Homo sapiens: one gene and its partner. The protein of the gene in region 1 interacts with the protein of each later gene in a pairwise test. Each region holds a gene or a part of one and is shown on either strand. Other genes may lie near its edges.

Region 1 (3,500 bases):
AGGACCTAGTGGGTACCAGGCTCCGTGCCTGGTGTTTTTCTCATCTCCCCCAAGCCTTGCCACCTCTCCAACCACACAGCCGGAGAGTGGCAGGGTCAGGATCTGGGCCCACGTCATCTATTCTGGGACCTGCCAGCTCCAAGGCACAGGGCTGTGTCCCCTCCCTAGTCCTGGGACGGCTCTGGGTACGGAGCTCTGCAGATACTCACCGTGTAGAGGATCAGGACGGAGATGAACTGGGTCAGGCTGTACAGAGCCATGTACTTGAAGACGCTGAACGAAGTGTCAAGGGAACAGCGCCCCTCCCTGGGTGGCAGGGCACGGACATTAGGGGACCCAGGTTGGCTGACCAGCCCTGCTGAGCCCTCACCCACCGGTCCCTGCCTGCCTTACCTGATGACCATGGGCACGCACTCAATACTGGCCATGCTCGAGGTGAAGGGTGAGACCACTGAGGCTTCTGCCTGGGACAGCGAGATGCCGACATCAGCCGCCTTCAGGGCCCCACAGTCATTGGCGCCGTCTCCGCACATGCCCACGCAGTACCTGAAGAGAGGTGTGGACAGGTGTGGCCTGGGGAATTACCCCACCACCCCATGGGTGGGCTGGCAGAATATGATGACAGCTGGGCCCCTAATGCCACATGGTGCCTGGTGTACAGGAGGCGCTCAGTGAATAGATGCAATTATTATTATTATTATCATTATTATTATTATTTTTTGAGACGGAGTTTCACTCTTGTTGCCCAGGCTGGAGTGTAATGGCATGATCTCAGCTCACTGCAACCTCTGCCTCCTGGGCTCAAGTGATTCTCCTGCTTCAGCCTCCCAAGTAGCTGGGATTACAGACGCCCGCCACCACGCCTGGCTAATTTTTTGTATTTTTAGTAGAGATGGGGTTTCACCATGTTGGCCAGGCTGGTCTTAAACTCCTGATCTCAGGTGATCCACCCGCCTCGGCCTCCCAAAGTGCTGGGATTACAGGCATGAGCCACCGTGCCCGGCCTATTATTTTTTGAGACAGAGTCTCCCTCTGTTGCCCAGGCTAGAGTGCAGTGGCGTGATCTCTGCTCACTACAACCTCCTCTGCTGCCCAAGTGCCCTCAGCCTCTTGAGTAGCTGGGATTACTGGTGTGCGCCACCATGCCCAACTAATTTTTGTATTTTTAGTAGAGACAGGGTTTCACCATGTTGGCCAGGCTGGTCTTGAACTCCTGACCTCAGGTGATCTGCCTGCCTCAGCCTCCCAAAGCGCTGGGATTACTGGCATGAGCCACCGCGCCTGGCCTATTACTATTTTTTGAGACGGAGTCTCGCTCTGTTGCCCAGGCTGAAGTGCAGTGGTGTGATCATGGCTCACTGCAGCCGCAGCCTCCCAGGCTCAAGCAACCCTCCTGCCTCAGCCTCTTGAGTAGCTGGGATGACCGGTGTGTCACCACACCTGGCTAATTTTTAAATTTTTAATAAGAGATGGGGTCTCACTTTGTTGCCCAGGCTGGCCTCAAACTCCTGGGCTCAAGTGATCCTCCCACCTCGGCCACTCAAAGAGGTGGGATTACAGGAATGAGCCACCGCACCCAGCCTACAATTATTATTTTTAGCATGAAAGACCTGGGAGAGCCTGCCTGCTTTTGGTGAGGAGGGGTGACAGCTCTCTGGTGCCTGAGGAGGGAGACAGGGCCCTGGGGAAGGACAGATGAACAGACGAACGGACAAGCTCAGTCTCCGCAGGCCCTTGCCCACACCCTCTGCCGAGCACTCACTGAAGCTTCTGTAGCTCGCACACCAGCTCTGTCTTCTGCTCAGGGGCCATGCGGGCAAAGACAGTGCCCTGGACCAGGACCTGGGAGCACAGGGAGATGGGGGAGGGCTGAGGCACCCACCAGGGAGAGCGAGCCGTGAGGAAGGAGACAGAGCAGGGGAGGCGCAGGGCGGCCAGGGAGCTGGGGGCGGCCCTACCTTGGGCAGCAGCTTGGGGAAGTGCTTCACAATGATACCAAAGGTGGGCCCGCTGAGGGCCAGGTGCCTGGATCGGGGGTCTGGCTCCACGGTGTAGCTTGCAGCCTGGTCAGGATCCTGGGGGCCCAGGAAGCTCAGCTTAGCTCCCCCTGCCCACCCTGGAGAGTTGGGGCCTGGGTCAGGTGACACAGGGGTGGGGTCACTGGGTGAGGTACAGCTGGAACTCTGGGTTAGCCTCACCTTAACGCCATTCACGGCTGTGGGGGACTCCATCGGCAGGAACTCGAGAGAGGCAGGCTGACCCCGCTCAGGGTGGGTGGCGTGGACGATGATCAGATGCTCCTGGGGGGCCACCATGCCACAGCCCCGGGCCACAGTCACCGCTGTCTGCAGGTTGTCCCCTGGGGGTTATGGGGCAAGGTGAGGGTCTGAGGCTATCCGGGGAGGCCATCCTCATCCTGATCCTTACAGATGGGAAAACAGGCTGGATGAAATCCGTCTGCCACCACCAGCCAAGTGAGCTGAGGCAGGTTACCAACATCCCTTTGCCTCAGTTTTCTCATCTGTAGATCCAGGCATTGAAGGGTCTTAGGAGAACCTGGAGCCGTGGGCTGGAGCTCCACATATACTCCTTTTTTTTCTTTTTTTAAGACAAGAGTCTCTCTCTGTGGCCCAGGCTGGAGTGCAGTGGCTTGATCTCGGCTCACTGCAACCTCCTTCCTCCTGGGCTCAAGCAATTCTCCTGCCTCAGCCTCTTGAGTAGCTGGGATTACAGGAGGGTGCGACCACACCAGGCTAATTTTTTTTGCATTTTTAGTAGAGATGGGGTTTCACCATGTTGGCCAGTCTGGTCTTGAACTCCTGGCCTCAGGTGATCCCCCTGCCTCGGCCTCCCGGAGTGCTGGGATTACAGGCACGAGCCATGTGCCCAGGCTACATATACTCCTTACTGCTGTGTGACTCTGCTGCCAAGTGCCCATGAATGTGTGTGCACATATGTGTGTGTGCAGGGGCGGGGAGGACAAGGACACAGACCTCTTAGCTCCTGCTGTCTCACCCTAGCTAGAATCTTTTTTTTTTTGAGACTGGGTCTCTCTCTGTTGCCCAGGCTGGAGTGAAATGGCGTGATCTCAGCTCACTGCAACCTCCACCTCCCGGGTTGAAGTGATTCTCCTGCCTCAGCCTCCCGAGTAGCTGGGATTACAGGCATCCACCACCATACCTGGCTAATTTTTTGTATTTTTAGTAGAGACGGGGTTTCACTATGTTGGCCAGGTTGGTCTCGAACTCCTGACCTCAAGTGATCCGCCCGCGTCGGCCTCCCAAAGTGCTGGGATTACAGGCGTGAGACACTGTGCCCGGCCATTTTCGTATTCTTTGTAGAGACGGAGTTTTGCCATGTTGCCCAGGTTGGTCTTGAACTCCAGGGTTCAAGACATCCTTCTCCTTTGGCCTCCCAAAGTGCTGGGATTACAGGCATGAAGTACCGTGCCCGGCCAGAATCTTTCTCTTCCTGCTCCTTGAGCTTGTCACAGCCTCTGA
Region 2 (3,500 bases), on another chromosome or scaffold:
TTACAAAGCTCAATTCTGTATGGGAAGAACAGAAACACGTTCTAAGGAAGTGTTGTTTGCATCTAAGAAAGAAAATAAACGAAGCATGAGATTTTTCTTTGAATCCAGTGGAAAGATCAGATTACTATGCTTGGTGCTGTTGTGATGGTAAAGTACTTTTATGTGATTAAAATTTCAGATTAGTGAATTGGTACAAACAATATAAAAACCAAAGTTCATTCACTAAGCCAAGTTCTGTCCTTTATTAAATTGAAAAAAAATAGAGCTCATATTAGGTTAGCCTAGCTCAAGGGTGTTTAATGTAATTTTAATAGCAGCTGTTAATATTTTATATATAGTATTTTAATTAAGTTCCATATTTGCACACTGCATTGGTTTGGTATGGAGTAGCCTTTTAAAAATTGAATGAATGGCTATACTTGCTTTTATTTTACTTAAAGGATATTTCTGATTTGGCTGGTGAAACAGTAAGATTCAGAGGTCACTTACAACTAAGAAACATGGAAATTTCATGAAATAATTTATTTTACCCATTTTTTATATCAGTTATATTCAGGGGCTATATGAATATTATTTTTCATATAATGTGGAGAAAGTGTACTGCTATGACAAGAGGGTAACATGGGCTCCTTTCTGACATACAGATAATGAGGCCATATCTGTTGATTTGCCTGGAATATTCCTTAGCTCAGTATTTTAAAAGCCTTATTATCTCTGTTATTAAAGTAGAGGGAACCCACGCCTAAGAGCAATTCTTTCTGCTGTTGGCCATACTAAAGTAAATAGAAATATAATGAGACCATTATGGTCATTAATTTGCTGCCAATCTAAGTAGTGGTTATTTTTGGATAGAGAGAGGGTTAAAATCATATTTGGTGGACACAAATGATTTAATTTTAATATTACCCACTTTATAAGGTTCATAATTTCCATCCCAGATAGAGAAAATTGTATTTATTTTTTTATCCACAGTTTCTAGTACATTCCTGGGTATAGCAGTTGTTCAGTATATATTTGGTATAAGAAAAACTAAAGATTAAAAACATGTAAGTAGTACAGTGCCAAACAACCCCTGATACTCTAAAAAAAAATAAAATAAAATAAATTAGCAGCATCATTTTTTACATTTGGAGAATAATGGCACTCTTTTAATTGTAAATGCAACTTTTTTAACTGTAAGCATTTATTTAAATTACATTACTTTCTGAAAGCAGTTTATATGATATAGGATAAAAACTGGTGTTCTCTTGTGAATGCAACACCATCCTCCAAGCCCAGATGTTTGAAATAAGCCACTGAGAAAGTTAAATAATTGTTAGCGAATGTGTAAACCTGGTACAAAAATGACAAGTTTTTATGAGAACAGGACTTCTGTCCCTTCTTGGTCTTGAGGTCCCTATATCATTTTGCAGACATTTAGGGAGCAGGAAAATCCATCAAGAAGGAAGGTGGTAACTCCTTTCTGAGGACTGGGATATGCAACCACAGTAAGTGTGCTCTTGACAAGAACCTAGGATGTCCATCTTTTTGGTGGCCTTCCCTTTGGTTCTTTGGTCTTTAGTTCACTGAAAGGGGTATATGAACCCCTTATTCAATGAGAAATAACACCTTTATGTGTAATTTTCTAAAACTTTCTCATTTTGGCAAAACTGATTGTAACTGGTTATTTCTAACATATGTTCCTTCTTCCAATCTGAGACATGGGGAAAATTCACTCTAATTTCCACAGTTTGACTAATTCTGCTTGGCTATAGCTGTTCTTTATGTGCAGTGCAGCTTTCTTCCACTGCCTGCTCACTAAAGGGTCAGGGACATGGAAAGCCAAGTGGGCTGAGCCGTAAATGGCACTTCCAGATCCTGCAGTAAGCTAGCAAAGGAGAAACCATACCAAGTGCAGGCATGATTTAGTGAATCAGAGTGGATGACTTCAGTGCTGCAAAATGTAAATAACCTCTGTGGATAACTTAGCTACTAACAGGGCAAAACCCCTAAGTCAGTGGACTTAATAAATATGATTGAAGAGGCCCATTACTTTGCAATTTTTGCAGGACTTACAGCTGAGCGTTTTTGTTGTTGTTGTTGTTTTTAAACCAGTCTCTCTCTTTCCAGACTTCCCCTTTGCCTCTTCTCTGGTCCCACCCTCAACACAAAACAGCTGCCCAGGTATTTAGCTAAACTGTGAATGGAGCTACAATTAGGATGAGGTTAATGATTGTTTTCTTGGGGCACAAATATTGTTTAAATTTGTGTTAAACTCTGGCTCAGTCAAAGTACCCTCTCAAGTATTTTTATAGCAAACTGCCAGTCTTATTTTATTTATTTATTTATTTATTTTGTAAACCATCATTACACATTGAAATCAAAGAGAAAACTCATTATTCTTGTCAAAGTTGGCTTGTATACAGCAGGGTACAGCTGATTGTGTCAGCGGTTATTCATGGGTAAGCCTACATTTAACAGCTAAGAAGCCATTGAGATTTGAATTGAAGTCGTAGAGTTCCAGTTTAAGAACTAGATATTACAGTGGGAAAGGTACAAGGCTCTCTCAAGAGCACATAATTAGAGGTTTATAGTAATCACTGTTTGATGTGAACAGCACTTTCTAGCTATCTATTACCAGCACTGATTTCTGTGTACACCATTCATGAATCACCACACTTAAACATTTCTACTTGAGCAACCATTAGACAATTTCTCTGCTTAGGTCTTGTTTGAACTTGCCCTCTGACTGTAAATGTTCCTCCCATGCCTCTGCCTAGTAGCCTGTTATATACATTGAAGTAATTTTAAGTGCATTTATATTTTGTTTCATATCCACACCCATAAACCACTATTCATCAGAGGAAACACCGAAATACCTTACCAATAATTTACTAGTTCTTTGATCATATGACCAGATGGGGTCAATTTTGCTTAAAATTGTAATGTTAAGTTTTATTAAAATGTTTATATTTATTTATTCTGAAGAAGTTTATAGAAAAAAATCATTTATTGTTTCTCCACACTCAAAGTATTTTTTATATTTGTACATTTTCCTTCAGTTTTTGTTAACATTATATATATTTTATATAGTTGCAGTTAGAGTATAAACATAATTTTTCAGGCTATCTGTTTAATATGGTGTTATGTACTCTTTTGCTCAAGATCATCTAAGTAGCAAAATTTATTTTCTGGGAATTATGGAATCATAAGCAAAGATTCAGAGCAGAGCTTTTCAGAAGTACCTGAGCTAGGCCCCTGGGCTTGTAGAACTTAAATGTATTAACATATCTAAAGAAAAGAAACTCACAGGGGCAAATATTAGCAGTAATCTTCTGAACACTGCTTAGCGAACTTGACAACTTCATCCCCACTGTAAAGATGGAGGCAGGTCATTTAACTGAGATAAGGGTGTCAAGCCTTCCCAGGCCAATATTACTATACATTTCCTTATCTCATGCATTCTTCTTGTTCAGAATCCATGTTCCCCATGCACTCTTTTGATTAAGATTTAGTTCCCA

The links. The genes of interacting proteins can lie anywhere in the genome.
Region 2: the proteins of ATP13A2 (region 1) and NRXN1 interact in a two-hybrid assay, tested with the Homo sapiens proteins (one large-scale study listed by BioGRID).

The regions. Positions count from the first base shown.
Region 1 is NC_000001.11:16,987,929-16,991,428, forward strand, and holds part of ATP13A2 (polyamine-transporting ATPase 13A2), read right to left. Parts: intron 2,360-3,500; coding exon 2,199-2,359; intron 2,076-2,198; coding exon 1,959-2,075; intron 1,843-1,958; coding exon 1,763-1,842; intron 547-1,762; coding exon 394-546; intron 307-393; coding exon 210-306; intron 1-209. UniProt on the Homo sapiens protein: ATPase which acts as a lysosomal polyamine exporter with high affinity for spermine. Also stimulates cellular uptake of polyamines and protects against polyamine toxicity.
Region 2 is NC_000002.12:50,546,133-50,549,632, reverse strand, and holds part of NRXN1 (neurexin-1 isoform alpha4 precursor), read left to right. Parts: intron 1-3,500.